Linked DNA regions of Homo sapiens: regions 1, 3 and 4 are each reported to be linked to region 2. The links are microRNA targets in miRTarBase. Many come from high-throughput screens and were not tested one by one. Region 2 holds a microRNA gene; each other region holds the end of a gene's coding sequence.

The links. The annotated mature microRNA hsa-miR-5186 reads AGAGAUUGGUAGAAAUCAGGU and lies in region 2 at 3,656-3,676, shown strand. An mRNA with a match to its seed (bases 2 to 7 or 8) in the 3' UTR can be bound and repressed. Matches are read on the target gene's strand: a 7mer-m8 pairs with bases 2 to 8, a 7mer-A1 pairs with bases 2 to 7 and ends in A, and an 8mer does both.
Region 1: miRTarBase lists IRGQ as a target of hsa-miR-5186. Seed matches in the 3' UTR shown: 7mer-m8 at 2,151-2,157 and 7mer-A1 at 1,832-1,838.
Region 3: miRTarBase lists SNAPC3 as a target of hsa-miR-5186. Seed matches in the 3' UTR shown: 8mer at 5,826-5,833.
Region 4: the mRNA of ZNF566 is a reported target of hsa-miR-5186. Seed matches in the 3' UTR shown: 7mer-m8 at 4,791-4,797.

Annotation. Positions count from the first base shown.
Region 1 is chr19:43,585,705-43,593,847 of GRCh38, forward strand. IRGQ (immunity related GTPase Q) reads right to left here. Exons shown (of 3, transcript NM_001007561.3): 3 at 1-7,663. The coding sequence ends at 6,322. Among named protein-coding and RNA genes, the nearest start is that of IRGQ, 6.4 kb to the right of the region's middle. RefSeq lists an enhancer at 4,030-4,119.
Region 2 is chr3:151,561,582-151,569,579 of GRCh38, reverse strand. MIR5186 (microRNA 5186) reads left to right here and starts at 3,585; the gene lies at 3,585-3,704. The region is part of intron 1 of LINC02066 (long intergenic non-protein coding RNA 2066); the gene reads right to left. It also overlaps a transcript of IGSF10 not described here.
Region 3 is chr9:15,458,224-15,466,285 of GRCh38, reverse strand. It overlaps SNAPC3 (small nuclear RNA activating complex polypeptide 3), which reads right to left. Exons shown (of 9, transcript NM_001039697.2): 9 at 4,660-6,567. The coding sequence ends at 6,420. PSIP1 (PC4 and SRSF1 interacting protein 1) reads left to right here. Exons shown (of 16, transcript NM_033222.5): 16 at 706-2,220. The coding sequence ends at 766. Among named protein-coding and RNA genes, the nearest start is that of SNAPC3, 39 kb to the right of the region's middle.
Region 4 is chr19:36,442,406-36,450,548 of GRCh38, reverse strand. ZNF566 (zinc finger protein 566) reads left to right here. Exons shown (of 5, transcript NM_001145344.1): 5 at 548-5,430. The coding sequence ends at 1,572. Among named protein-coding and RNA genes, the nearest start is that of ZFP82, 28 kb to the right of the region's middle. RefSeq lists an enhancer at 299-1,498.

The DNA.
Region 1 (8,143 bases), not on the chromosome of region 2:
AAGGCGCTTTACCATCATAAGCTCCCAATGTTTAAACAGTAAGTCTGCCCGCACTCCTTCCAGGGTGGAAAAACTCAGATACTGATAAATTCTCTTGATCACAGCCCAGTTTTTCCCAGCGGATTCCCCACCATCCCTCCTATCCCCAGACGCTGGAGTCTAGGTTTCCAGCCCAGTCAAAATCTCAAGGATCTTTCTTTTCCCTCAAACTCCAAAAGAACAGACACGCAATAGGATTTCTATTCATTTTTATTCATTCCTCCAAAGAGCACCACAGGCCAACCACACCCTTGATGTGTCCTTCATGGTTCCCCACTGCAGTGGACACAAATCCCTCCATCATTATCCAGGCATGGATGGAACTCTGCTGTGGTGAGGAGGTTGTCTCGCCCACTCACCCAAGTTTTCCATGCCTGTTCTGCTTTTGATGGCAATGCCAAAATTCATCATACATTTCCTTGAATTCCTGCCTTCAAGGGTCTTCCAGCCCTGTGGTGCCATGCAGACACACTTCAGTGGCGGCCAGTGATCTGTCTACAAGGGAGTCTTAGTCTTTTCTGCTTGGATGCTCCCAGGGACAGATGCCTGCCAACAACCTTATGTCTTCACAAAGACTAAAATGGAATCCCATTAAAAGTTATGATTTAAAAGGCGACCACCCCCAAAAGAAGTCATAACACTCAAGGGTGTCAATATATACAACTGTGTAAACACAACCAATCTACAACTATATCAACACAACCAGCACTCCTCTATGGGCACAGACACACACACAAAATTGTCTTGCTTTCTCAGATATGATCTCTGGCATGACTCCTGCTGGCATGAGGGCAGAGGAAATTGAGAGGAGCAAAGCATATAGCAGTGATGTCAGACAGGACCAAATCAGAGACAGGGTCAAAGTGGCAGAAAAATGAGGAGCACACTCCGAGCAAAGGCATGGGGGTGAGACAAAGGCACCCAGACTAGAGCCATCTTGGTGCTGCCCAGGGGTGGGTGGCACTCATGTTTGAGCTCCATGTGTCAGGCTTTTCAGGAAAGGGTGTACTATGTTATGTGTCTGTGTGCATATTGTGTGCCTGCATGTACATACATACGCTGAATTCTCACCATAACCATGTGAGGTAGATGCCATTTGTAGAGTGACTTGCCCAAGTCAGTGGAAGGACTATCTGCCCCTAGAGCTAGACTGATAGAATTTTCTATGTTGATGGAAGTATTCTGTACCTTCCCTGTCCAATACCATAGCCACTAATCACATGTGGCTACTCAGTATTAATGTTGCACTACTGCCAATGAAACATAGAATTTTAAGTTGTATTTACTTTTAATTGAACAGCTGAGGCCAGGTGTGGTGGCCCATGCCTGTAATACCAGCACTTTGGGAGGCCGAGGTGGGCGGATCACCTGAGGTCAGCAGTTCAAGACCAGCATGCCCAACATGGTGAAACCCCGTCTCTGAGAAAAATACCAAAATTAGCCAGGCATGGTGGCATACACCTGTAGTCCCAGCTACTCAGGAGGATGATGCAAGAGAATCAGTTGAACCTGGGAGGCAGAGGTTGCAGTGAGCTGAGGTCATGCCACTGCACTCCAGCCTGGGTGACAAAGTGAGACTCTGTCTCAAAACAAAACAAAACAACCCAGCAACTTGGTCAACATAACCAGACCTGCATCTTTACTTAAAAAAAAAATGGACACCCATCTCAGTTTTTGGAAAACTATTATATAATTGGAACAACTTGGATATGTGAATCTACTTCTCCAACTATGAATTTTATGAAATCAAAATAAAGGTCAAGCATTTCAGATAAAAATGTACCATGGTAATTGAGATTTGGTGTAAGTGTAAAATATATAACAGATTTTGAAGACAGCACAAAAGAACGTAACATAATTCATTTAAATAATACCGATGACGCCAGGCACGGTGCCTCACGCCTGTAATCCTAGCACTTTGGGAGGCCGAGGTGGGTGGATCACCTGAGGTCAGGAGTTTGAGACTAGCCTGGCCAACATGGCGAAACCCCATCTCTAACCAAAAATACAAAAATTAGTGGGCATGGTGGCGGGTGCCTGTAATCCCAGCTACTCGGGAGGCTGAGGCAGGAGAATCACTTGAACCTGGAAGGTGGAGGTTGCAGTGAGCCGAGATTGTGCCACTGCACTCCAGCCTGGGCAACAAAGCGAAGCACTATCTCAAAAAAAAAAAAAACTAAAAAACCGATGACATGTTGAAATGCTATTTTGGATACATTGGGTTAAGTAAAACATGTTAAAATGAATTTAACCTGTTTCCTTTTACTTGTCTAATGTGGCTATTAGAAAACTTGGCTTACTCAGCACTTTGGGAGGCTGAGGTGGGCAGATAACTTGAGGCCATGAGTTCCAGACCAGCTTAGCCAACATGGTGAAACCCCATCTCTACTAAAAATACAAAAATTAGGACGGGTGCAGTGGCTCACGCCTATAATCCCAGCACTTTGGGAGGCTGAGGCCGGTGGATCACCTGAGGTCAGGAGTTCAAGACCAGCCTGGCCAACACAGTGAAACCCCATCTCTACTAAAAATACAAAAATTAGCTGGGCATGATGGTGCATGCCTGTAATCCCAGCTACTTGGGAGGCTGAGGTTGCAGTGAGCCAAGATCGCACAACTGCACTCCAGCCTGGGTGACAGAGCAAGACTCCGTCTCCCAAAAAATAAATAAATAAATAAAATAAAAATACAAAAATTAGCTGGGCGCGGTGGCTCATGCCTGTAATCCCAGCACTTTGGGAGGCCAAGGCGGGTGGCCTGAGGTCAGTAGTTCCAGACCAGCCTGATCAACATGGTGAAACCCCATCTCTACTAAAAATACAAAAATTAGCCAGGCATGGTGGCATATGCCTGTAATCCCAGCTACTCAGGAGGCTGAGGCAGGAGAATCACATGAACCTGGGAGGCGGAGGTTGCAGTGAGGCGAGATCGTGCCACTGCACTCCAGCCTGGGTGATGGAGTGAAACTCCATCTCAAAAAAAGAAAACTTAAAATGACATATGTGGCTTGCATTTCGTTTCTACTGGACAGTGCTGCCCTGCAGCCCTCCCATTCCATCACGTGGCTGACATGCCTGATTGCAGGGCTTAGACACTAATATGATGGGGTAAAGATATGGATGAATATTCTTCCCCAAAGCTGAAAGAGCTTTCATGAAAATGCCTGGAGCCATTCAGTATAGAACTAAGTGCTCTTCCCCATGGTAGCTATCTCAACTTTGAAGGGACAAATTTTGTCAGCAGTGGGAGTCCAAGCTGGAGATGATGGTACCATCCCTTGTCTGCCCTTGGATCAGTTACCTTTGTCTTCAGCTTTTAAGGGAGACAGGATCTCAAAACTAAGGTTCTTATCCAGCTCTTTTATTTCACAGATGGGAAAATAAGGCACTGTCCAAGTAACACACAGTGACAGTGGCAAAGTCGTGCTTGCTTCCCAGGTCCCTGACCTCAGACAAGGGTGTTCTCTCCCATTAAATGCTTTTTTCTCCTCATCTTGCTCCATTTTCCTATCTTGTGGCAAGAGATTAACAATCTAAATTCCAATCCTAGTTCTGACACTGACCAATGAAATAAACATTTAGGCTGGGTGTGGTGGCTCACACCTGTAATCCCATCAAGGCAGGAGGATCACTTGAGGCCAGGAGTTCAACACTAGTGTGGGCTACAAAGCAAGACCCCCGTCTCTACAGAAAATTTGGTGCTGTGTACCTATAGTCCCAGCTACTCTGTAGGCGGAGGTGGGAGGATCGTTTGAGCCCAGGAGTTGGAGATGGCAGTGAGCCATGATCATCCCACTGTATTCCAGCCGGGGCAACAGAGCAAGACCCTGTCTCTAAAATAATAATAATAATAATAAATATTTACGAAGCACCTATTGTGTCAGGCACCTATTGTTCTAGATGCTGGGGAAACAACAGAGAACAGGACAGGCAACGGGTCAAAAGCCAATAAACAGGTAAATAAATAAGATCATTTTTGACAGTAATAATTGCTACAAGGAAACTCAACTGGCCGAAATGAATAGTGGGGGAATGTGAGCTACTTCAGATAGGGTGGTCAGGGAGGGGAAGTCCTCTCTGAGGGGATACGTGAGCTGAGATCTGACTGAGCCCGTCACAGGAAGGTTTGAGAGTAGAACAGGAAGTTGTGAGTAGAGCCTTGAAGGAAAGAGAACAGCAGGTGCATGGGTCCCCAGGCAGGACTCAAGGTAGCCACTCAGGCATCAGAAAGAGTCAGGCGGCCATGATGGCTCACACCTGTAATCCCAGCACTTTGGGAGTCTGAGTCGGGTGGATCACCTGAGGTCAGGAGTTCGAGACCAGCCTGACCAACAGGGTGAAATCCCTTCTCTACTAAACTACAAAAATTAGCCAGGTGTGGTGGCACATGCCTGTCATCTCAGCTACAGTCATCACATCCCTGTACTCCAGACTGGGTGACAAGGTGAGACTCCATTTCAAAAAAAAAAAGAAGGAAAGTCTATCAGGCTGGACAGGAGTGGGAAGGGGCAGTGAATGAGAATAGGCAAGGGCCAGACCCACAGGGCCTTACTGTGTGCTGTTGGGCCTCAAGCCTGCCCTCTCTGGACTTTGCTCTTTCTGTCTACGACAAAAGGGATTCTATCGCTTGGATTCTCAGATCCTCCTTTTCTGTTTTTGACACTGAAGAATTCTGTAACCTGCAACTTTTCCCCCACATGTGGCTAGCAGCCTAGAACATTCCAGGCACTGTGGTTTCTGCCTTTGCTTCATTCACTCCTGGCATATTCCCATGGTCTCAAGTGCCTGACCACCCATTTGGTGGGCCCCTGGCTCAATGCAGCACCCTCTATGTACATCAGAAAGCAGAGCCTCTTGGGGATACCCGAGGTGTCCATACAGAAGTGTTTGGACCAGTGCAGCAGTACAGCTGCTCTTCTGAAAAGGAAGGTGCACAAAACACCAAGGCCATAAAGGGTTATGGTTAAATACCAGGAGAAAAAGGCCAAAAAAAGATAGAAACTCCTAAAGAAAAGAGACAGAGAAACAGACTCCCCAGAGATCACCTGAATTGCTCAGCACCTAGAAGATGAAGGCAGTCATATCCCTTCCCAGTCACACTCACAGAGGCAGTTGCCGGGATCCCAATACAAGGTTTGGAGGAGCTGTCTCTGAGGTATGCTTTACTGCCCTTCCACACCCAAAAGACCTCATTCCTGGTCCCTGGCTACTCCCAGAGCCCACCATGCCCAGACCTCTTACCCACCTCACCTCATTTTTGTGGGACCACCCTCCCTACATGCTTTTGGAGGGCAATTATAGAAACCCATCCACTCCCCAGGAGAGATCAAGAAGTCTCCAGCTTTCTCGCACAAGCCCCCGATCCCTCCTCCAGATGCAGACCTCCCCTTACCCAATATTTAGGAACCAAGGTCCACAGCCATCTTAGAACCCCGGAAGTCTCAGACCCCAGGGGCCTCCGCCACCCCATCAAGATTCAAAGCCCACTGCTCCTTGGGGACCTGTGTGCAGGCTTTTTCTCCCAGAGAAATGTAGACCCTGTTTCCCTCTGAGGCTCTGAAGCCCAAGAGTTCCAGCTCCCTGGGGCGCTCAGGTCTCCCTCCCCTATACTGGAGTTCAGGTCCCAGTCATGGACACCTCCCCACCAATTAGGAAACAGGACTTCTACCAGCCTCCCTGGAGGACTAAACATCCAGTAACTCCAGTTTCTACTCCCTAGGAGACAAAGACATAGTCCCTGCTAGAGTCTGGGCCACCAACTCCCTTCAGGACAGAAGGGTCTAGATGTCATTCACCATGGTTCCCAAAGGTATCAGGATTCCTGGCCAGGGGCGGTGGCTCACGCCTGTAATCCTAGCACTTTGGGAGGCCGGAGCGGGTCGATCGCCTGAGGTCAGGAGTTCGAGGCCAGCCTGGCCAACATGGTGAAACCCCGTCTCTACTAAAAATACAAAAATTAGCCAGGTGTGGTGGCAGGCACCTGTAATCCCAGCTACTCCGGACGCTGAGGCAGGAGAATCGCTTGAACCCGGGAGGCGGAGGTTGCAGTGAGCCGAGGTCGCGCCATTGCACTCCAGCCTGGGCAACAAGAGACTTCGTCTCACAAAAAAAAGAAAAAAAAAAAAAAAAATCAGGATTCCTGTCCCCCAGACTCTCTGAATCCAGGTGATAAGAAGTCACACATCCCAGCTGGAAGTCAAGAGTCCACATCCCCTTCAAGCACCCAGGATTAAGCCCAGGCATCCCCTGTCAGAGTCTGGACTCCCAAGCCCCCTCCCACTCCTCACTGGGCAGGCTCAGGGGGTGCCAGCACAGCCTCAGCATCAGCCCGCATCTCATCGAGAGCCTGCAGCAGGACGCCGTGAGCCGCTCGGTAGCCCAGGCCACCTGTCGCCGCTGCACCACCCGCAGGCCACAGGAAGGAGAGAGCCCCCAGTGCTGCGCCCCCAGCAGTGCCCTCGCCCGCCCAGGCGCCCAGTCTTGCTTCCACCTCGGCGCGCGTCACCGGGCCTGGGAAATGAGCGCGCGCTGCCAGCTCTCCAGAAGCCAGGCCCAGGGCACGCTCACGTCGAGCCAGTGCCGTGGGTTCCAGCCCCAGGCCCCGTCGCCACTCCGCCAGCTGACCCCGCAGAAGTGCCACGTCGCATGCCCAGCCCAGCCCTGGGAGTGGTGCCGCCGCCGCCGCCAGACTAGCCAGCAGAGCTGGCCTCCACGCCCCGGCTCGCAACGCCGCAGCCTTGGTTCGGGCAGCGCTGGGAGATGCTGGTGGCAACGCCAGCAGCAGTGCCCCTGCCTGGGCTGGGGGGAGCGCTCGCCGCAGCCATTCGCATAGCCCTGGGAGTCCGCCAGGCCGTAGGGGGAACACTGGCGGCGGCGCCTCCTCCAGCACCTCCCACGTCTCGTCCTCCGGGCTTAACGCAGCGGCCCGCTCTGAGTCGCCACCACCTGATTTCTTCATGCCGACAACCTGCTGCAAACCCTCGCTGCCAGCTTTCCCAGGACCTTCCCCGCTGCCTGCTTTCTGCGATCCAGCGCTACATTTCTCCCTTCCCTTACTGAGTGCATTCTCCAATCCCCCTCCACCTGCGTTCTTTAAGCTCTCGCCCTTGGGATTCTCCATCTTGCCTTCTCCCAGACACTCCGGATCCTCGCCCTCGCCGTCTGTGCGCACGCAGACAAGAGGCGCATCTGGTAGCAGCAAGGCCTGGACCTGGGCCCAGTCCTTCTCAGTGGGGGCCCCAGGGGTGACGAGGATGAGGGCGTCGTAGTGCGTTGGGTGAGAGGCGGCGGCCGCGGTGGTGGCAGTGCCCGTGTGGCCCAGAGGCACGGTCCAGAGCACCACATTCGGGCGCTCTGGGGCTGGGAAGGGAGTGGGTGCTGTGGGGACCGAAGCAGGCGCAGCGCCTGGGTCGCCAGGATCCAATCCAAGCAGCATGTCCACCACAAGGCCCACGTCAGCCTTGCCAGCCACGGCCAGGTCTAGCCGTGCGCTGCCCAGGCGCTCCAGGCCTGAGCGCACCCACGACAGCGCAGCCTCAAGGCCGCCGGTCTCAAAGGCCTCACGCACAGCCTCTAGCTCTGCTGCACCCAACACCTCGAAGCCATCCTGCGCCGGTGGCAGGAGCCTGTGGGGACAAGAAGGGACAGGGTCAAAGGTAGAAGAGGGGCTGGGTGACATGGACTGGGCTATGATGACAAGGGCAGAGCTTTCCTAATGATCCCAGAATGGGGCAGGGGTAGGAAAGGGAAGGGCCAGACTGATGGCACAGCAAATAGAAACCAGATAGGGAGAGGCAGTGATGATATGGGTGGGGCTTCAAGCAATAATGGAGTCTTGATTATTGGACGGGTGGACATAAGGTCAGGTTTCCCACCCCAGCCTAAAATGGGGATTGGGCTAAAACTTCCATGGAATACAGTATTTGGGGGCGGGGTTTTTCCAAGGGTCGGCTGTGCTGGGTGGGACAAAGCTCACAGAGGGTGGGGCCTAGAACAAAGAATCGCAACTGTATTGTGGCCTAAACACAAGTCCAGCACTATTTGAGACAAGGTCCCCAAGGGCACTCTTTTCAGGGGCTGGGCCTAAGGAGGGTCAGTGAGGGGAG
Region 2 (7,998 bases):
GTCCCTGAAAGCCAAGGCATTGCAATACCCCTACTTAAATGGTGTGACAGATTATCTCAGCACTTAGCATCACTTTTGCCCCTTTTACACTCTTTTCTGGTATCATGGGGCAGGAAGCCTGGGAACTACATTTCCTACAATCCCACCCCATCAGTTATAGTAGAGATAACAAATGAGAGGCACACAAGTGATATTCAAAAGATGGAAAGGCCGGGCACAGTGGCTCATGCCTGTAATTCTGGCACTATAGAAGGCTGAGGTGGGTGGATCTCTTAAGATCAGGGGTTCAAGACCAGCCTGGCCAACATGGCGACACCCCGTCTCTACTAAAACTACAAAACTTTGCCGGATGTGGTAGCGCATACCTGTAATCCCAGCTACTAGGGAGGCTGAGGCAGGAGAATTGCTTGAATCCAGTGGATGGAGGTTGCAGTGAGTCAAGATCTTGCCACTGCCCTCCAGCCTGCACAACAGAGCAAGATTCGGTCTCAAATTAAATACAGGTGGAAAGGAGGCAGAATGTATTGTTGCAATAGAAATGCTGGTGGCAGACTAGCAGCAGTTGCTAGGTTCGGCTACCTCAGACTTCATACTCCTCCGTTATTCTTCTTTTCGGGGGCTGTGCAATGACTGTGACGTCAACAGTAGCATTCTGCACTTTGCTGTAATCTATTGATTCCCTATATTAAGTTTCTTTCTGCTGGAAATATTTAACATAGTTTGGTTTCATGACTACACACTCTGACAAATACACCTGAGAACAGTCATAAGGGTGTCTTACCTAGTAAATGGAGCTTCAGCAGCCCATTCTTCCTTTACCAGAAAAGAGACAATCCAGTGTCTGGAAGTCAAAATTGCTAGGATACACTTTTTCTATTGCATGGGAGGGTTGGAGGGTAGTGTTGCTATACTAAAACTAAATCCTCCCCCACCATGATGTTCAAAGACTAAAGGGAGGTGGATATTTCTGACAGACATGCTATGTGCTTGAATGTCAGCTTATTACACACAGGGGTGAAGCAGGGTTTTATAAAGAAAGAGAACTCTGTGTGAGCCGTCCCTAGGGAGATATTATAAATCAAATCGTGATTCAGGCATTTCTGTGTCCTCAAGCCAAACACTATCTAGTAGTGTCCCAGACCCCATTTAAAGTCCTAACAAGAGAATTGTAATACCGATAATTAAATTCTGAAAGAAATGAGGTCATTGTTTTGTTGTCATAATAAAAGGATTTTGGTTTGCACAGTGTCTGGAGGAGGCACGTGTCCATGTGTTTTCAAGCTTTGTCCAGTAAAACAGTGTGCCTGTGACAATTAGTACTGACTTTTTACCAAACATATGCTTAGAAATAAGGATAATTTATTATAATAATCATAAATACAGGATTAAAGAGGAAAAAGTACTTTTTTTGTTCTATTGTATATGTTCTGTGGCAGTAGACTAGACAGCTAATAATTTAGACATCTGAGAGGACCACCTACCAGAACAGAGGGTCTTTACTCTTCTGACAAATAAACTAGTAGGTACCCAAAGATTGAGGCCCAGAAGAAAACAGAGAGAGAGGCTTTGTTTTAAAATGTACTGGGGTTTGTTTTGATCACTTATAGTAAGACGTGAGCCTGACAATGACTGTCATGAAGGAAGAAGGTGTTTGCACTCACAGTTCCCTAGAAATAGGAGGCACAGCAATGCAGGGAAGTCGCTTGTGGAAGCCAGGCAGGGGGCACAGGGGAAAAGCAGGGGTCAGCGCCTTTACTGCAGTTTTGTGGAAAGGAATGGGCAAGGCAGGAAAATAGGCTAAGCAGGTTTAGAATTGTCTTGTTGAATCATTTCAGCAGGCTCTGGGGTGTAGGAGCTGTTTGGAATTGTCTAGCACCTCGCCCTGGGCTGATTAGGGCAAGAAACTATTGGCCTGGAGTGGAAGGGTCCCACAGAGGTAGGGGGCTAGTTACAGTAGGCTTTGAATTGCTTAGTTTGCATATAAAAGAGACCCTCCCAGGTAACACTGTTTGATATCTGCAGGAATTAACTAATGCTGGGAGAGGCCATCCCTCCAGATCTGTGAGGCCCAAGATGCCAGAGCATCAGGAATACAGAAAATAAGAAAATAAAGTTCAAGTAGGTTTACAGTGAAAGTTTTTCTTGTTAGTTCCCAACTATACACCCTAGCACGAGTCCCAGAATTTCTACAGTCCTGGTTTACAGATGATACTCTCAGCAGAGGCAGAGTGACTAGGCTTCTCAATTTATTCATATGGATAATAAAGTGGCTCAAATAAAATGAATATTTATTATAAGGCCATAAAGCCATTTCACAAAAAATGAAGCAGAGGTGAATCTCCCAGGAATAGGAGCTGAGATCCAGGGAACCACTGAAGATAGAAGTTTCTCTCTCTTTGTCTCAACTGCATATAATCTTCCTCATCTATGATCATTGGCTACTGTCCACAGACAGGATCAAAATGCCCAGGGCCCAAGTCTACAGACCCATTTACTTCATAGGCCCACATCCATTTGACTAGAGACTCTGTGTCTCAGAAAATACATTTGCCTACAGGCTAGCCAACAGATTGACAGCCACCTGGATAGGTGTTGGTCCCTGGTCCAATCAGGGAAAAGGCTATGACATTAGACGAACTTGAACAGAGAGACTCATCTCTTCAGCAAGGGTGAGCATGGAGCTGACAGTGCTGTAGATAGGCCAGGCAGGCACCCTGAAACTACACCACCTCTGTTAGCTAAGAAATATAATTCTTCTTGACATTGAAGAAATTGCTAAAAATTGTGACAGGACTTGTGGCTGTTAACCTATTCAGAGGGAAAGATGGTAGTACCGAATGCTGCTCACTAAATATTCCCAGCTCTCTGCCCTCCGGCACATAGCACTCTATGGCTCCCAGTGGTTGGTGGAGGCCATGTAACTATTCTGGCCAATGAACTGAAAGCACAAACAATGTATGCCACTTTCCTGTTGAATGTTTATCTCTTGGCATGATTTCCTCTGAGCTCTCTTTGTCCCTGCCATGGTAGCATCCTCCTGATAGCGACTATTCTATCAGCCTGGGACCCAAAGCAGGGACAACACATGGGTTGTCAGAAGAACAAGAAGTCAACTTCCTTGTTAGCCACTGAGATTTGGAGTTTGTTATAGCATAACACAACCAATGCCAACTGGTTTAATAAATCCAAAAAGTTGTACTTATTAAGTAGAACCCAACAAATGCTATTAACTTTAATCATCCCTCAGTTCTGGGGAGAGCAGAGGAGACCTTATGCACTATCTTTTCTACTATTCATCTCAAATCTTTCCTAATCTATCATTTGTGGGGTAGGGTTTCACTTCCCTGCTTCCTAATTCATAAACTATCATGTTTATCATTATTTGGTCAGATTTCTGATTTTCTAGCTGATACCTCCCATTCTAATCCAAATTTGCTTTCTCCCCTCTGCCAGGGAGTTCTCATGACATGTAGCTAGGGCCTCACTTTGTGGCAATTTTATAAGCCTCTCATTAAACATTGGCACTGCCTCAGTTGCTTTCTGCACTGATTCTCCCAGGACTGGACCCCTGCCTACTCCCCAACTCAGCCAGCTTATGACTTGACCCTCTCACCTGATTTCTACCAACCTTTCCTCAGCTGATTTCTTTCTGGGGAGAGATTGGTAGAAATCAGGTGAGAGGGTCATGCCATAAGCTGGCTAACACTTTCATGCATTAATTAATACAGGAATCATAGCTATCATCTTAATCTATCACTCTCGTATCTATCTGATACTATGCATTAACGTTCTCAAAAGGCAAATTCCAACTAGAACAGTGTTTCTCAAATACCAATCAGTGGGCCAGAAGCAACAGAATTAGCTCAGTAACTCACTAGAACTCCAGGGTAGGTGCTTTAGTAGGTCTAAAAATATAAAGCAGAACATTTCTATGTTTGTTTGTTTTTATAACTTCCCCCAGGTGAGTCTGATGCACAAAAAAGTTTTGAACCCCTGGAACAGATCATTCTGTAGCTGCTTGAACTTCATAATTTGAACTATTTACCTCAACCTGGAGGCAGGCCTGGCTTTCTTGATCCCTTGTTTCAATTTTGACAATGTTCACCTTCTGCTCTGGCCAGGAGCTCCCAGGATGCCAGTAAACCAGACCTTACCACTCACCTCTGTATATAATGGCATCTCAAATTCCTTATTCACTTTTTGTACTTCTGGGTTACAAACATACTGGTGATTTTATATTATGATTTTTACAAATGGGTGAAATATGGTTTCTGGGCCTATAAAGTCAAGCACTAGATTCTAGATTCAAGGTCTCTCTACCAATTTGCCAAACCCCAGTGAAGTACTGCTTAAAGTTCTCAACTGGTCTTACCTCCTAACAATTGATAATTCACACAGCAATTGTCAAACCATCATATGAATTAACCAGTAAATCCCATTCTCTGCCAGTACTAGAGAGTTCTTTCAGAGTTTTTAGAGAGAAAGTATAGCATAATATAAGCCACAGATTCCAGAACCAGATTGCCTGACTGAAGTCCTAACTGCGCTGTTTATTAGCTGGTGATCTTGCACAAGTTACTTAGCTTGCCTCTGTCTCAGTTTTCTACTTCCTAGGCTTGTTACAAGAGTTAAAGGGACTGATACCTATAAGAAATCTTGTGCTTAGTATGTATTCAATGAACATTTAACCATTACCATGATTCTTACTTTTTAGTTATAGGCTATTTATTTACAACCACTTGTATATGAAACTTTCAACTGCACGCTTACCTTTGGGTACCTCTTGTAATTGATTCACCGGTAACTCACATGTCATTATGCTCTCTCATGCTAAAGCTCAGTCAGTAAGTAAATTGTTTCTTGGCCTCTAAGGACATGCATACCTCATTCAACTGCCGTAACCCAAATGCATGCAGATATCAAGCAAAGCAAACTGGTAAAAACTATGGCCAACTGGGGAACACAAACTTCATCTAAAAGGTCAGCCACTTCTCAGTCCAGCCTAATATTTCCATGCCTGAATGCAAACCCAATGCTTCCTTCTGTCTTTTCAAAAAGAAGCCAGAAATTTAGACTTTCATGGTCAATTTCCCAATTTGTAAATGTTGTCAAAGAAAAAAAGAAAGAAAGGAGGAAACAAAGAGAGGAAGGAAGGAAGGAAGGAAGGAAATAAATTCTTAAACGTCATGCTGGCCAAAACATATATGTAAGCCAATTTGATCCAAAGCTGCCAATTGGCTCCCTGTGCAATTAAAAAAAAAGTCAAATATAAAATTGAATGTGTGTACTGATGCAAAAAAGGAGTATGAAACCCGATAATATCAGCTTGGTCAAATTAAATATGCATGTAATGCCCTAAAAATATGTATTTAATACATTGTTTATTAGAACTAACATAAAGAAATTAGAAAAAATATAGCTATTTATGTTTTACTCCTAAAGCCAATGCAAGGTTTGTGGTAAAACCTGATGATGATCATCTTCTATGAAACAGAATATTCTTTTCACACTCATAACAGGAAGCGAGCAAAGATGTGTTTAGGAACATAAATGCTGGATCCAGACTGCCTGAATTTAGATCTTAGTTCTGCCTCTTGCTGGGTGAATACCCTCTGATGTCTTCATTTGGATTGCTTCCCCAACCTGTCTGTGCCTCAGTTTCCTCACCTGTGAAATGGATATAAGAACAGCACTTACCTCATAGGTAGTTCTCTGACAATTCAATGACTTAATTATTATAAAGCATTTAAAACAGTGCCTAGCATATAGTAAGCCCTATATAAATATTTGTTAAATAAATTATGGCTTTTGTTCAACCAAAATTTTACTTCCTAAATACTTATAAAATATCATAAGGCAGGCTAATATTTTTTTTAAACGCTGCAAATTCAACTACAGGAAACCAAATTCTCTCCAGTGCTTTAAACTAGAGCTAAATGTCCAAGTGAATATTACTGTTGTTGGTGACAACTCTCCAGCACTTGGATATAATTCTAACAGAAGGAAAAAATGCAAGTTGTTGTCAGGGACAATTGAGTATCTGATGGCTTGATGGCTTCTGAGGTCTCTTTTATATATCCATAAACGTGTTATTTGTCTTACTTGGCAGTGAAGCTCATGGAAAACTGAACTCTCTCCCTAGAGTCCTTAGCTTTTTATTAGATTCAGGATTTCCTGAAGCCCATTCACATACCTCAAATTAAGAAGGCCCAAGTTAGGACATTTTATTATTTTGTTATTCTAGTTAGTTGATGCCTAAAGTGTAGGCAGGATGCCCTGGGACATGAGGTGCAGAGGTACGGGCCTTAGCAAGCAGTACCAGGTAGGAGAAATGGGAAGAAAGTCACTCTCACGGTCAAGGCTGTTTATTCCCTCTCCTAGAGGGCCGCAGGGTGAGAAGATATATGGCAGACACACCTGAGAGCATTAACTCAAGCATACCCTATGAATGACCTACCGTCTAAGAAAAATGTGTGTTAGGAGTTCTGAGCTAAGGAATCCGGGAGTGGCCAACCCAGAGATTCACTCCTTCTCTATGAAGAACATATGAATCCCTGGCCCATCCCTTAGAATGCAGGTCATGCAGAGGATTGAGGCCCTATGTTTTGGGTTAAATGGAGTTTGCTAGGTGGAGGTTGCTAGGTGGAGGGGGTTAAATGAACATTTTTATATAAACTCCATGATCTTTACAAGTGGTAGCACTTTTCCTGTCCATCCGACCACTCCCTGACTGCCCTGTATGTACGTCCTTGATAAAGTCTATATCTTATTCACTTGGGTCTCTTCTTTGGGCTCTTGGACATGGTGCATTGGTGCCTTCCCTACTGGAGTCAATAGGGGTCTGGCACCACAGTAGAGCACTTCTGTAGAATTAAGAAGCTTGAGGCTCTAGTCTGGACATTGGTACTAACAAGTTGTGTAATCCTGGCCAAGTACCTTCCACTCTTGGAGGAAGTACCTTTAGAAGGTACTTCCTTAAAATGAGGTGGTTTGACCAGGTGATCTTTAAGATGCTTTGAACAGTATGTGTCATCTTTATACTAGAGTAAAACTGTTACCGGAAAGGGGTCCCAATCCAGAACCCAAGAGAGGGTTCTTGGATCTTGTGCAAGAAAGAATTTGAGGTGAATCCATAGGGTTAAGTGAAAGCAAGTTTATTAGGAAAGTGAAGGAATAAAGAATGGCTACTCCATAGGCAGAGCAGCTCCGAGGGCTGCTGGTTTCCCATTTTTATGGTTATTTCTTGATGACATGCTAAACAAGGGGTGGATTATTAATATTCCCCTTTTTTAGACCATATATGGTAACTTCCTGACATTGCTGTGGCATTTGTAAACTGTCAGGCACTGGCGGGACTGCAGCAGTGAGGAAGACCAGAGGTCACTCTCATTCCCACCTTGGCTTTGGTGGGTTTGGGCTGGCTTTTTTACTGCAAACCTGTTTTATCAGCAAGGTCTTTATGACTTGTATCTTGTGCTAACTTCCTATCTCTGTGACTAAGAATGCCTTATCCTCCTGGGAATGCAGCCCAGTAGGGCTCAGCCTTATTGTACTCAGCCCCTTTTCAAGATGGAGTTGCTCTGGTTCAAACGCCTCTGATAAAAGAAAAAGATAAGTCTTGAAAGTATGTGTTTGGACCAGAAGAACGTCAAGGCTATACACATGGGTTACATTTTCAATGATTTATTTGTGTAATTTAAATAAGAAATATTGCAGCATGCTTCACTATTTAAACAGCACAAAAGATTGTATAATAAGGAAAAAATTATTTCTCCTCCTCTGCCTTCCACATACTTTGGTTCTGCTTCCCCAGGTTACCAGAGATATGTATACCTCTCCCCACTCCCCTTCCTATTTTTAAACTACAAATGGTAACAGATGTATATATTATTTTGCTTCTTGTTTCTTTCTTTATCAGGATATCTTAGAGGACGTTCCATGTCAGTACATATGCATCTTGTTTACTCTTTTTAAAGCCACATTTTATTTCATTACATA
Region 3 (8,062 bases), not on the chromosome of region 2:
TGCCTCAGCCTCCCAAGTAGCTGGGATTACAGGCACCTGCCACCACGCCCATCTAATTTTTTGTATTTTTAGTAGAGATGAGGTTTCACCATGTTGGCCAGCCCGGCCTCGAACTCCTGACCTCAGGTGATCCACCCACCTTGGCTTCCCAGTGTTGGGATTACAGCTGTGAGCCAACATGCCCGGCCATCACAGGCTATTTTTTAATACCCACCCTAAAATAGGCTATGGAGCCATAGTTGAAGTCTTGCTTTGTTCCACTGTGTATCTGAAGGAGTTAGATAGAAGCATCCCTTCTAATTCTGAAATTGAGGGAAATCTTGTTGTCTATGTGTGTATCAACCTCTCTTTTTATTAAGATTTTGAAATATGTTGGTATCACAGATATAAAACATTCTCATGTTCTTTAAAGAGAATTCACTTTTATGCTAGAAATGATGGAAAGGGCTTGGTCCATGACACTTTGCTGAGTTATTTTGCTTCATCTGCATATTACTTTGGGAAGAAGATACAACATGGTAAAATAACAGTTTTGAAGAAGAAAAAAATAATAATGACTGTTCTAATAACAAGTCAAGTTTTTCTTTTGTTTGGTTGGTTTCAGTCTTTTCATGGGTTTAAAAATATAATGCAGACTTAATGTCTTTTTTTCCTTCATCAGGAGAAAATCCTAATTCCAGTTGTACCTTTCCCCCTTTTCTTCAGGCCATCCAGTGAAGAGAGAGAGACTGAAATATCTCTGAAGGATTCTACACTAGATAACTAGGTTGACATACCTGGAATATAGAGAACACTTGAGAAGTTTGTAATGGTTTTCATTTGAAATAGACTGCTGAAAGTTTTAAATTTTTATAAGCATAGGTTTGATGTTGAAAACTTGTTTTGAGGGAGAAAATCCCTTTGTTTTAAAGTAAAGTAAACATTATCGCTAAGTGTACTTGTGCAGTATTAACAGCTACATTATACAGTAAATGTGGGATAAAATCCATTTAGAAAATGTTAAACTGCTTTTCCAGACATGGTTGTAGCATATTTTCAATTAGTGTGTGTATGTTAATGTGTAATTGATAGTAGAACAAAGTTACATTTTTAAAACTGCTACTTGTATAAACCTTGCCTCTTTTCCCAAATACTGTGGGTTTTGTGCATAGTTTTTACAAACCTTGGATTTACCAGACTGTCTTTTCACTGTTTGTGGGTTTTGTAGAAGTTACACATTTTTATGGTAGATAAAATGTTACTTCTATACAAGTACTCACTCCCTTTTTATCAAAAGTTAATTTTAATCTCACAGTCTACATTGTGCTACATTATCCAGCTTCTTTGGAACAATGTGTGCTCTGTATGGTTTTTTTTGGTATGACAACTAATTAAGCAACTGACATGGAACTGAGAATTCTACAAACTATAAAACATTAATTTTTGAAGGTAATTTAGTTTTGTGGCTGGGCATTCAGTGAAGTCTTAGGACTTCTTTGCAGACAACTGACTGGGTATATATAGGAATGAATCTGGCTTTAGGGTTAAATCATTTAAGGTCCTTTTATAGGCAGGCACTAGTAACTAAAACTGAAAACTAAGTAAGTTTATTTTTGAGGAATGTTGTTAAAAATGTCTTTAGGAAGTCACTAAAACTTAATTGGAAGAAAAAATCATGATGCTTATACAATAAATATGAATAAATGTTATATAAGGAAACTCACCTATTTGAAATCATGGCTATATTGTTTTTATTTTCTAGATTCCAAAAATACAAACACTAGTTGTTCCAGCATTGTACTTTGATAAGTCTGTACATTGACGTGTATGGACTAAATCCAGGGTAAAATCAATGTTACAAAATTTAAGGGTATGTTAACTAAAGGATAGCATTTCTAAGATATTTTGAATATTAGGGTCATTTGGCACTTCTCAGCAAGTAGGATACTTCTCATGTTTTGAAATTATATGAATATGGAAAAAAATGGCTTAAGACCAGCGTCTCTGTATGACATTGTGTGGTTGACCCTCTGAGATAACTGTTTTCATCTACAGAATTGCATTTTTGCTTTTAAAGAGGTCTTATAATGGAACTAGGAATCACCGTTTTGAGAGAACCTGCATATATACCAGTCATTATCTGTTTGGTCCTTATACAGTTTTAACTTACTTAGATTTATTCTAGTTAAGCCATAAGTTCAACGTGTAAACTTGTTTTCATTAAAGAATTTTTCTATCAAACTCTGCTAGTAAATTACTTTCTTGCTATTTACAAGAGTAAGTGATGGAATTCTGGGTTTGCTGCCAAGGAAATAATTTCTTAGTTAACTGGTCACAGAGGTTGTGCTGTTTTGGGAAACGGGGTAACTAAACAGTAAGCTCAAGATGATAAAAAATAAAGGTAATATTTATCTTTTGTTCACCCTCCCTTTCTTCCCATGACCCACCAGATCTATAGTTTTACAAAGAAGCCACAGAATATTCCAATTCTAGAGATAGAGCATCATTCTCATAATTTATGTCAGCTTGTACAGGCTGACCTTGCTCTAACTAGTTGATGTATGTTCGCTTCAAGCATAATTGCTGTTTCTTTAATCATAACTCTCAAGAAATGGTGTCATAGGCTGATTTACAGATAACTTCTCAGAACTCTTGATAATTATTCATAAGACTTAAGAACTTTCAGGATCATTGAAATTGTTCATTGGCTCAATTTGTGTGTGTGGTCAAAACTCCACAGCTTGACAAGGCACCAAAAGGTAATTTTGAGATAGATAACCCCCACCCCACCCCACCCCACCCCACCCCACCCCTCCAAAAAGTACGTGTAATATGTATGTTTTAACACCTCTTTTGGGCTGGTATGTGTGTGTATGTACGTATGTGTTTTGATTACTGGATAAAAGAGTCATACATCAGCCGGGCGCAGTGGCACGTGCCTGTAATCCCAGCTCCTCGGGAGGCTGAGGCAGGAGAATTGCTTGAACCCGGGAGGCAGAGGTTGCAGTGAGCTGAGATTGCCCCACTGCACTCCAGCCTGGGAGACAGAGCAAGACTCCATCTCAAAAAAAAAAAAAAAAAAAAAAAAAAAGAGTCATACCATGACCAAGCAGAACTGACCATTGAAGGTTTTCTTAGCTGCTTGGAGAAATTGCAGATACATCTATCTGAATCTGAGAACTGACTGGGATTTGGTATGTGAACAACTGGAGAGAACCATACACTTTATAATTAATATTATATCCAGTGATTTCAAATAATATGATAGATTTTGCTGATACAGTACTGCTGTCTGTGTTCCTACTCATACACTTACCTGGTTACAGATGTTAGGTCAAGATGAGGTCTGCATCTAATCCTGTATAAGAGCAGAGATTTTTCATAGGGTGCTGTGAGGGCTTTGCTAACTCTATTTTGTCCGATTGGCCAGAAAAAGGATGCTCTAATGGAAATAGCAAACCTGTATCATTAAACTCTTTAGAAACAAAGAAACTGGTTTAATAGGCAGAAATGTGTTTATGTTTGTGTCGTGTAATTCTGCAACACAATGTTAGAGATGACTGACCTTTCTCCTAGTAAAACTAGAATGTCTAATTGTCCTTAAATGGTACTGATGCCTGAAGAATGTTTAAAGAAATAGCTATTGCTTCTCTAGTAACTTCTGTGCATGTGTATCCACTATTATATAAAAGTCAAATTCAACTACCAAGCAGGTTGACATGTTCATGACAACATTTTCAGTTGCCTATCTTCATTAGCTAATGTGTTACATGTAATTTGACAGGCGTGTTACATTTGATTGAAATAAGCATAAAGAAAAGCTGCCTCGAAAAAAGAGAAAAGCTGTCTTAAATCAGGGGTTTTATAGCTCCAGAAATATACAAAGTTAGGAATTTCTTTTGACTTGAACTTGGTGGGATACCTGTATAACTGATACATAACACACGGGCAAACTGTGGGAGTAACCTGGTTGATTAACTTTTCTCCTCAGTTTCACCAGGGAACAATAATAGGTACCTGAGTCTTTGATGAAAAACTTAACCTTAAGAACTAGCAAAATAACATTCTCAAATAATTAATAAAGAATCCCAGTAGCAGAAATGTTTTAACTGGCATGTTTCTTCTTTGTCCGCTAAAATGTATTGACACCACACATGGAATAATGCATTATGACAATAATTAACTTTTTGAAGTTTGGTGTTTTGAGAGTATGAAATGAATGAATAAGATAAAATATCCTTGCATATGCATGTAAGACCTATAAGGAACGCAGTATTGAAAATAAAGGAATCAAAATTTTTACCCATGGAATTTTAGGGTTGGGTAAATCATTCATTTATCTTAAATCTATGGTTTGCTGGCAGTTATCAATCTGCTCAATTTTAGCATTGTTGTATACAAGAAAGTAAAAATTTAGGTATAACATAAGCCAGCCTCTTAAGTTCTCTATACTGATTATCTGTGTACTGACTGAATCAGTGAATGAGAACACTAGACATACCAGAAACTCGTGCTTGTCATCTCCAAGCCAATGGACTTAACTGTTTGTGGCATTTAAGTCCATAAAACATACTTCACTGTCAAACACATAGGCTTATAGGTTTCGTCAGTTTTCCATGTGTAAGATAAATGTCTGTTCTTAGCCATCCAGATATTCAGTCAAATTTAAATACAACCTAGGAGAGAGAAAGTGGAATTTATTTATTTTAAATGATGCATTTGAAATCTATAGTATTCCTAAAAGTCTTCTAAACAGTATTAAATGTTCTACCCATAAAGGTTCCCAGAAAATATTTGAATAAATCTATCTGATGGTCTAGACCTGAAAATAAAGAAAGTTTATTTTGCTGGGCGCTGTGGTTCATGCCTGTAATCGCAGCACTCTGGGAGGCCAAGGCGGATGGATCACTTGAGGTCAGGAGTTCGAGACTATTCTGCGCAACATAGTGAAACCCTGTATCTACAAGAAATAAAAAAATTAGCCCGCCATGGTGGCCTGTGCCACCATGTCTCAGCTACTCGGTAGGCTGAGGTGGGAGGATCACCTGAGCCTAGGGAGGTCAGGGCTCCAGTGAGCCAAGATCACGCCACTGTACTCCAGCCTGGGTGACACAGTAAGACCCTATGTCAAAAAATAAGTTTAAAAAGTTTTGGTTTTTTTTTTTTTCCTCAGAATAAGATGAGAGTAACTAGAATTACTATAGTAAGGGGACCAGAAGAATGGAAGACCTGGGCCAGGAAAACTTATTTTTTTTCTTTTTGCTTATATAATTTTGGTATATATCCAATAGTATCATTACCGGAGAATAAGTGAGCCAGAGCTAGCAATCAATAGGATCTTGATTTTTCCATGTCCCCACAGTCATACGAAATCTGCTATTGTTTTTTAAATCATAGTATTAAATTGACATATTTTAAACTCATAACATTCATAAAGCTTTTGTCAAGAAATAAAGCTTCAAGTTAATGTTATTTCTGGAGTTATGAGTATATACTCAAGATCTTTTTAAATTCATTATTCACATAGTCTTATTAACATGTCTTGTATGCCTAGTTTCCTCCAAAACAAAACCTAACATTACTAAACAGCACACTAAGATTAAATTCCCCCAAAGCAGCCGGGCGCGGTGGCTCACGCCTGTGATCCCAAAATTTTGGGAGGCTTAGGCGGGTGGATCGCCTGAGGTTAGGAGTTTGAGACCAGCCTGGCCAACATGGTGAAACCCCGTCTCTACTAAAAATACAAAAATTAGCCAGGCATGGTGCCAGGTGCCTGCAATCCCAGCTACTCAGGAGGCTGTGGCAGGAGAATCACTTGAATCCGGGAGGCGGAGGCTGCAGTGAGCTGAGATTGCGCCACTGTATTCCAGCCTGGGCAACAAGAGCGAGATTTTGTCTCAAAAAATAAATAATCCCAAAGCTATTAATTTTGTCTTATTTGTAAATAATTCATTCTCCCTAGTTTCCATTACAGTTATTTGAAGGATCTTTACCTTGGAAGCCTCATGGTAGAAGGTGTAGCTCTCACATTCTTCAAAGAATTTTCAAAACACTTCCACTACTTGATGTATCATTAATAATTCTATCTTTAGCAAAAAACTCTGGACAGAGAATGAATAGGGAAGGCATGGATTGGGAGAAAGAATATGTGTGTCTGACAAAGGATTTAAAGTCAGAATATATAAAGTACTACAACTCAACTCAAAATGGGTAAAAAGCACTAAATTAAATACTATCTGGAATAAATATAAAATTAAACTATGTTATAAACATTTAAATACTATCATTATAAGAAAATCTGTCATTTGGACTTTTTTTTGATAGCTTTAGCGGACTGTTCAAAGTGGATCCTGTTCCTCAGTGGCGTTTCTTAGAAATAAGGTAACCATCCAAGAGAACAGTTATTTCATGAGGGGGTATTTTTGTGAGTGTAGCTATTCTTAATTAAAGGTTCCAGGATCAACATAAGGATAAGCAAGGAATTCCCCCAGTTTGTTGCCTTCTGAATCATAGTGCAGCATTCGGAAGCAAACATCACAAAAGAAGCATGGGTCCTCTGGTGCAAAACTGTCATTGTTCGTCACCCATCTGTAGTTTTTAAAAAAAGAAGTACATCATTACAATCAAATTTGCCATACTTAACATGCTTTATGACCTGTAGCAATATGTAAATATAACATTCTATTTCCTTATCAGTCTGTTATTAATGCATAATAATCCCTTAATTTTGTATACATAGATACAAATACATCACCACCAATACTCTCTCTACAAAGCGAAAGGGCATCTAACATTAAGAAACACTGCAGAATGCTGTTTCTCTGTAATACTTACCCTTAAAGGAAGAATATAAATCTATTTGAAAGCATCACACATTTGCCACGACATACCTATCCTCCAAGTACGAATATAGTCATTTTCTTCTAACAGACCATCTTGAAAAACCATGGCAAAATTAGATGCTACAAATCTGATAGACTTTTGCTTAATATACCTTCTTAACTGATAAATGAGTACTGGTTAATTTGAAAACTATATAACTCTTTTTACCTAGAACTCAAGATTATGTTATAAAGTATATACAAATAGCAATATGGGCAACATTATTCAACCAAAATGTTGAATGGCATGAAGATGCTATTGTATGGTATGTTTGAATTCTGCATCTCATGGAATGTTTGCTTTTAACATTATTTTCACTTTGATTTATCATGTTTTCCTATTGATCTTTCAGAAAAGAATATTGTGGTGGGGTGGCGAAAACAAACTGAAGATACAAGTTGAGTATCCTTTATCTGAAATGCTTGGGATCAAAAAGAAGTATTTCAAATTGCAGATTTTTTTCAGATTTTTAAATATATTATGCATATATTTGCCGGTTGAACATCCCACTGAGAATTTGAAATCCAAAATGCTCCAATGATCATTTGAGCATCAGATGTTGCCACTCAAACACTTTCAGGTTTTGGATTTCTGATCTTGAAATTTGGAATGCTCAACCTGTACTAAATTTCCTTTCCTCTGAGTGGCTTTCAGATTTTTTTTATATGTTTTTTATAGTTACTGCTGTGTTGTCCAGGCTGGTCTCCAGGCCTCAAGCGATCCTCCCACCTCAGCCTCCAAAAGCAACAAATTTTTTTTTTACTGACCCACAGTAAGAAATGCCTTATAATCTAAACATGTAGAATCACATAAAGTAAAAATTTTATAAAACTATATTTTAACTTCATGTGATGTACTGTGGTTTTATTGATGAAGTTTTATTGATGAAGCTGATTATGTAAACTATGTGGACAAGAGGCAGAAAGAACATGGCTCTCGAGCATTTTGGATTAAACAAGGTTTTCTTTGGTTAGACTTCCCAAATCCCTTTATGGTAATGTGCACTGTGACCCTCTAACAGGGAGTTATTGTACAGAGCTTTTCTTGAATGTATTCTATCAGAGAATTCTTTGCTTTGCTTAACACTAGTGACTTTTATTTTTATTCACCTAGCTGTATACATTTTACAAGCCTGAAATTTGACCTATCCCTGGACTTGTGTACATATAATATTTCCTGACTATTTAAGAATGTTAGTTTT
Region 4 (8,143 bases), not on the chromosome of region 2:
CCTCGGCCTCCCCAGTAGCTGGGATTACAGGCACACACCACCATGCCCCACTAGATTTTTATATTTTTAGTAGAGACAGGTTTCACCATGTTAGCCAGGCTGATCTCAAACTCCTGACCAAGTGATCTGCCTGCCTCACCCGCCCAAGGTGCTGGGATTACAGATGTGAGCCACCATGCCTGGCCATTTCCCTTATTTTATAATTCATACTATGAGATGCTATTATATGTCTGTGTGTATATATGCAATGAGATATTTTGTGTGTGTATGATTAGAGTCATCCTTTAACAAGGGAGATAGGACTAAAGCATGTGTATATTTAGCAGGCTTCCCAAAGTAATTCTGATCTATAGCAATGTTTGGGAACCAGTGACTTACTTTGTTTTCCTAATCACTACCCTCATCTTATTATGTAACCTGTCTTCTAACTCTCTTTTTTCCTCATCCATTTGTAAAAAAAATTCGGTTAAATTCTCCCATATTGATTGAAGTTTTGTTTCTCCCAAACAAGAAAAATGTGAGTGATTACTTTCATATTTTCTTTCAGTCCTGGAATCAAGATGTGAGACCAAGAAATTATTTCTGAAGAAAGAAATTTATGAAATAGAATCAACCCAGTGGGAAATAATGGAAAAACTCACAAGACGTGATTTTCAGTGCTCCAGTTTCAGAGATGATTGGGAATGTAATCGGCAGTTTAAGAAAGAACTCGGCTCTCAGGGGGGACATTTCAATCAATTGGTATTCACTCATGAAGATCTGCCCACTTTGAGTCACCATCCATCCTTCACATTACAGCAAATCATTAACAGTAAAAAGAAATTCTGTGCATCTAAAGAATATAGGAAAACCTTTAGACATGGCTCACAGTTTGCTACACATGAGATAATTCATACCATTGAGAAGCCTTATGAATGTAAGGAATGTGGAAAGTCCTTTAGACATCCCTCAAGACTCACTCATCATCAGAAAATTCATACTGGCAAGAAACCCTTTGAATGTAAGGAATGTGGAAAAACCTTTATTTGTGGCTCAGACCTTACTCGACATCACAGAATTCACACTGGTGAGAAACCCTATGAATGTAAGGAATGTGGGAAAGCCTTTAGTAGTGGTTCAAACTTCACTCGACATCAGAGAATTCACACAGGTGAGAAGCCTTATGAATGCAAAGAATGCGGGAAGGCCTTTAGTAGTGGCTCAAACTTTACTCAACATCAGAGAATTCATACTGGGGAAAAACCCTATGAATGTAAGGAATGTGGCAATGCCTTTAGTCAGAGCTCACAACTTATTAAACATCAAAGAATCCATACAGGTGAGAAACCTTACGAATGTAAGGAATGTGAAAAGGCTTTTCGTTCTGGCTCAGACCTTACTAGACATCAGAGAATTCATACTGGGGAGAAACCCTATGAATGTAAGATATGTGGGAAGGCTTATTCTCAGAGTTCACAGCTTATTAGTCATCATAGAATTCATACTAGTGAGAAACCCTATGAATATAGGGAATGTGGAAAGAACTTTAATTATGACCCACAACTTATTCAGCATCAAAATTTGTACTGGTGATGAAACAGAATATATGAAATGTGTAGGGAGGCTTTTAATTATGGCTCAAAACAGAATTTATCTTGTTAATAATTCCTCTAGATAGAATAATGTAGAAACATTTTATTTGTGGACTACAGCTTATTCAGCCTGGGAAAAATAATGTTGGAGAAATACTCTATGAATAGAATATACTTTGGAAGCCCTTAACTAAACGCTTACTTCTCTTGACATCAGATAATTCAGTCTAGCAATATGATAGATAATTCAGTCTGTCATACTGAAAATGACAGCACTTTTAACACCTTTCTAACCTTCTTAACGTCAGAGAATTTTTGTAGAAATGTAGTCCTGTGATTGTCATTTTTTCCCCTAATTTCTCTAATTGTTACATTCTTAGTATTTTAATCCATATTAAATTTATATGGCTATAAATTTCATCTGTTTACATCCTGATTTGTATACTATTTTAAAAATACCTTTAGTACCTGGGAGAAGTGACCTCTTTATTTTTGAAGATGGCTTATTCTTTTTGTTCTTTATAACATTAAGGCTTTCTTATTGTAAAAATGTTCATGAACGACATTTTACTCAATAGAGATTCTTCATTATCTTCATGGTGTTTTGTTGTGTTACTGTAATATCACTTATGAAATCCTATTGGTGGATATCGTAGTCTCCTCTAGATATTTTGCCATAATACATGCCAAAATACAAGTCCCTGCTGGACATTCTCCCTAAGCACATCTTTGTATCATATCTTTTAATTGCAGAAGTAATGTGTGAATATATTTTCCTTATAAAAGATGCAAACATTACAAAAAGGCAAATGTACCCTTTGACCATATCCCAAAGGATAGTCTTTATCAGTTCATTATTTATTGCTGATCATTTTTCTGTTCATATATACATGCGTGTCTCAGTAAAAATTATAAAATGGGGGATAATTATAATACCTACCTCATAATGCTTTGTGAGGATTAAATGAATTAAGATCGATAAAGTGCTTAGAATTGTGCCTGACATGATAAATACATACTCACTGAATGTTAGTCATCGTTATTATATTCATCATCATCAGTATTATTATTTGTAGAAAGGCTTTTTAACTTCTGCAGAACTTAGTCACCATTAGGCAGGGTGTTTGACTGAAGAAAGACCCTTTGAAGGTAACAAGTTAAGAAAATTTCCCATCATCATGTACTTACTATTGAACATGAAATAATCCTAGGTGTTGGGGGGGAAAGTACTGTGAATAATGTGTGTGAAGGACTTTATTCCGACTAATACTCTTTTTGTCGCATTATATACCCAGTAAAAAAGAAAAGAGAACATAAGCAAAATATTGGTGCACTAATGAGGAAAAAAAGTATGAAAAGAGAAACAGCATCATATTTAAAAAATGGACAGAGATAGAAACATAGTTACAGATTTAAAAGGTTCTGTTGAATATTATGCTTTTTTCTAATATGTTTGAAAATTTAAACAAAATGGTTTTTAAGGAAAATATACATCAATATTGACTCCAAGAAAATTAGGACTCTTCAAAGACTCTCATAAACACAGAGAACAGGGAAAAATTAGCATGTGATCAGTTAACTATTACTAATGAAGCACCAAATCCAGTTTCTTTCTAAGGAAAACTTTATCAAATGTTCAAGGAACTATTTCAGTTATATAGAAGTACACATCTTGGCTCACGCCTGTAATCCCAGCACTTTGGGAGGCTGAGATGGAAGGATCATTTGAGGCCAGGAGCTTGAGACCAGCCTGGCCAACATGTTGAAACCCCATTTTTACTCAAAAATACAAAACTTAGCCAGGCATGGTGGCACATGCCTGTAATCCCAGCTACTGGGGAGGCTGAGGCAGGAGAATCACTTGAATGCAGGAGGTGGAGGTTGCAGTGAGCCAAGATCACGCCATGGCACTTCAGCCTGAGCGACAGAATGAGACTATTAAAAAAAAAAAAAAAAAGTCCACAGTGTAGCTTTGTTTGGGGTTAAGTTAGTGTTTTGAAATGGGCCTTCCCTGTGCTCAAAACATGCTCAGCAAGCAGCTCCCCACGCTGGACAGATCGCATATGTGGAAGGATGAAGTTTATGTCTGTAGAACTGTTATTTTATGCCCCACTTCCTTTTTTCTTAGATCCTGTGTAGACGGGTCTCTCTGAACATTGTGTTACTTTACTTTACTGGCATAAGGAAGTAAAATATTTCATAATAAATTTGAGAAAAGTAGAGTGAGCAAAAATACCTGCAAATGAGAGAATTACTAAAAATGGACTGTTGTAATGTTTTGCGTTATCAAAATGAAAACTGCCAAATGAGATTTTGTTTACTTTCTTTTCTTGTGTGCTTATGTCTTTTATAAAGTTCTTCATCTAAAATTATAGAGATAGTGCATTTGCACCCAAATTAATGAAACAATACCATTAAAGAGAAAGAAAAGGGGCTGGGCACAGTGGCTTACGCCTGTAATCCCAGTGCTTTGGGAGGCCAAGGCAGGGGGCAGCCTGGCCAATATAGTGAAACCCCATCTCTACTAAAAATACAAAAATTAGCTGGGCGTGGTGGCATGTGCCTGTAGTCCCAGCTGCTCGGAAGGCTGAGGCAGGAGAATCGCTTGAACCCGGGAGGCGGAGGTTGCAGTGAGCTGAGATCCTGACTGCACTCCAGCCTGCATGACAGAGTCTCAAAAAATCTGTCTCAAAAAAAAAAAAAAAAAAGAAAGAAAAAATGATTATCTTTGCCCTTCTCCGTTCCTCATTCCCTCCCCTCTGTCAATTTTCTTCTGAATAATATTTAAAGGTTGTGTATATTACCCATATATTTCTTCATGCTAAAACATTAACACACAATTATTTTATTATGTTTTTACAGAAAAATGGATAACTATACATTTCCCTGAAATTTGCTTTTTTACATTCAACTGTACATTTTGGATTTTCCTTCAATAGATGATGATCTAACAGTCTTTCTGATGGTTACAGTATGTTCCACAGTGTTATTTACCAATGCCTTTTCAACCACTTTCCCAATTGTGATATTATGGATTGTTTGCGCTTTTTTGCCATCTAAAAGTAATGCTGCAACAAACACTTTGTATTCTTGTCTGTTTTATTTCTATAAAATAAGCTTCCCAAGTCATTTCCAGTGTTTTTGCTTTGTTTTGTTTTGAGACAGAGTTTCACTCTTGTTTCCCAGGCTGGAGTGCAATGGCGCAATCTTGGCTTACTGCAATCTCCGCCTCCCGGGTTCAAGAGATTCTCCTGCCTCAGCCTCCCAAGTAGCTGGGGTTACAGGTATATGCCACTACGCCTGGAAAATTTTGTATTTTTAGTAGAGACGGCATTTTTCCATGTTGGTCAGGCTGGTCTCGAACTCCTGACCTCAGGTGATCCACCCTCCTCGGCCTCCCAAAGTGCTGGCATTATAGGCATGAGCCACCGCACCCGGCGTCATTTCCAGTGTTTTCTATGTTTCCTAGGAAGGTTTTGCTTCTGGAAGATTTCAGAGGGCAAGAGAATAAAGGAGTGGAGTGCAGTTTTTCATATATGTGATTCTGTGAGTGTGTATACACAGAGATTTAATATTTTAATACATCAGGAATTGATTATACGATCTAATGCAGGATGTCAGACTTGTTTCTATCCAGGAATAAAACCAGTTATGCCAGAAGTAACTATTATTCACCTTTCTCCTACTGAATTAAAATACTATCAGTTGTATATTAAATGCTCACATCTATTTCTGTTCTCCATATTCTAGCAATCCTTGACACTTTTCAATAGCTTTTATTACTTGGAAATAAAGATGTATGTATATATTATTAATATATAGTTTATTATTTGGAAATAAAGATGTTTCTTCATGAGAATTTTTGACTCATTTATTTTCCAATGAAAACCCCATTAGGATTATATTTTGAATTTCATTCAGTTTAAATGCAGAGTATCCTACATGAATAAACAATTGACACTGAATGGAATTCATTAACACATCTTGAGGTTTCTTTTATAACTCTTCATCCTCTTGACTCTCTAATATCTAATAATAACACCATCTACTGTGATGTCTCACAATACTTAAAATATGCTAGTAATACCTGAAAATTTATTAGAGTTCTGCTTATAAGGTGATAGATTCTTTTGGGCTCTATAGTTATATAATCTGCAGATAAAGGTGACATACCTATCTCACAATATTTTTTATATCTATTTTATTTTATTTTATTTGAGACGGAGTCTCCCTCTGTCGCCAGGCCGGAGTGCCGTGGCGCGATCTTGGCTCACTGCAACCTCTGCCTCCTGGGTTCAAGTGATTCTCCTGCCTCAGCCTCCTGAGTAGCTGGGACTACAGGTGCACACCACCACGCCCAGCTAATTTTTGTATTTTTAGTAGAGACAGGGTTTCACCATGTTGGCCAGGATGGTCTCGATCTCTTGAACTTGTGATCCGCCCGCCTTGGCCTCCCAAAGTGCTGGGATTATAGGCATGAGCCACTGCGCCTGGGCCATCTTATTTTCTTATTGCATATGCAGACCACAGACCTGGTGAGAGTGGGTATTGGGCAGCACTTTTTTTTTTTAACCATATTTTACTCATTTTTTACAGAACAGCCAGTTTTTGAGATTTTGTTTTCTTCTTCCTATTTTTAGCCCTACTCTTGTTTGTGTGTTATAAGAGAAATGACTTATTGCCTTGGTGAAATGTGTTAAAACTGTGTATATTACCTCCCTTCATTGGACCCTTAATTTCTCCATGGTCTCTAGTACAGGCTATGATTTTCTATTCCTACTTTATAGAAAATAGATTTTCTATTCCTATTTCCATCCCATTTTCATTCAACTGAAAATGTGATGGGCAATATCTATACTTTATATCTGTGAGGATTCTGTGTAGACATTCTGTCATCTTACTTTTAAGTGTAAACTACAGAAATAAACCACAGGTTCAATGCAATCCCTATAAAAATACCAATGACATTATTCACAGAAATAGAAAAAATAGCCCTAAAATAGCCACAAAAGACCCAGAATATCCAAAGCCATCCTAAGCAAAAAGAACAAAACTGGAGAAATCACATTACCTGACTTCAAATTATACTGCTGAGCTATAGTAACCAAAACTGCATGGTACTGGCATAAAAACAGACACATCAACCGATGGAACAGAATAGAGAACCTGGAAATACATCCGTACATCTACAGTGAACTCATTTTCAACAAAGGTGCCAAGAACATACATTGGGGAAACGATAGTCTCTTCAGTAGATGGTGCTGGGAGAACAATATCCACATGCAGACTGAAACTAAACCCCTACATCTCACCATATACAAAAATCAAATCAAAATGAGGCCAGGCATTGTGGCTCATGCCTATAATCCCAGCACTTTGGGAGGCAGAGGCAGGTGGATCAGCTGAAGTCTGGAGTTTGAGACCAGCCTGGCCAACATGGAGAAACCCCGTCTCTACTAAAATACAAAAATTAGCTGGGTGTGGTGGCATGTGCCTGTAATCCCAGAAACTCTGGAAGCTGAGGCGGGAGGATCGCTTGAACTTGGAAGACAGAGGCTGCAGTGAGCCAAGATCATGCCACTGCACTCCAGCTTGGGCAACAGAGCAAGACTGTCTCAAAAAAAAAACAAAACAAAACGGCGGGGCACGGTGGCTCACGCCTGTAATCCCAGCACTTTGGGAGGTCGAGGCGGGTGGATCACGAGTTCAAGAGATCGAGACCATCCTGGCCAACATGGTGAAACCCCATCTCTACTAAAAATACAAAAATTAGCTGGGCATGGTGGCACGCGCCTGTAGTCCCAGCTACTTTGGAGGCTAAGGCAGGAGAATCACTTGAACCCAGGAGGTGGAGGTTGCAGTAAGCCGAGATCACACCACTGCACTCCAGCCTGGCGACAGAGCAAGACTCCGTCTCAAAAAATAAAATATGAAAAACATTAGCCAGGCATGGCGGTGCGAGCCTGTAATCCCAGCAACTTGGAGGCTGAGGCAGGAGAATCACTTGAACCTGGGAGGCGGAAGTTGCAGTGAGCCAAGATCGCGCCATTGCATTCCAGCCAGGGAAGAAAAAAAAAAAAGATTAAAGACCAGGATATTGGTCTGGACAAAGATTTCTTGAGTAATAAATACCCCAACATCCCAGGTAATGAAAGCAGAAATGGATAAATGGGATCACATCAAGTTAAAAAGCTTCTGGAGCACAGCAAAGGAAACAATCAACAAAGTGAAGGGACAACCCACAGCATGGGAAAAAAATTTGCAAACTATCCATCTGACAAGGGATTAATAATATACAAGGAGCTCAAACAACAGGAAGAAAATCTAATCTGATTTTTTAAATGGGCAAAAGATCTGAATAGACATTTCTCAAAAGAAGACATACAAATGGCCAACAGATATGTGAAAAGGTGCTCAACATCACTGATCCTCAGAGAAATGCAAATCAAAACTACAATGAGATATCATCTCACCCCAGTTAAAAAGGGGTTTTAGGAAGCTGGGCCCAGTGGCTTATGCCTGTAATCCCAGCACTTTGGGAGGCCGAGGCAGGTGGATCACCTGAGGTCAGG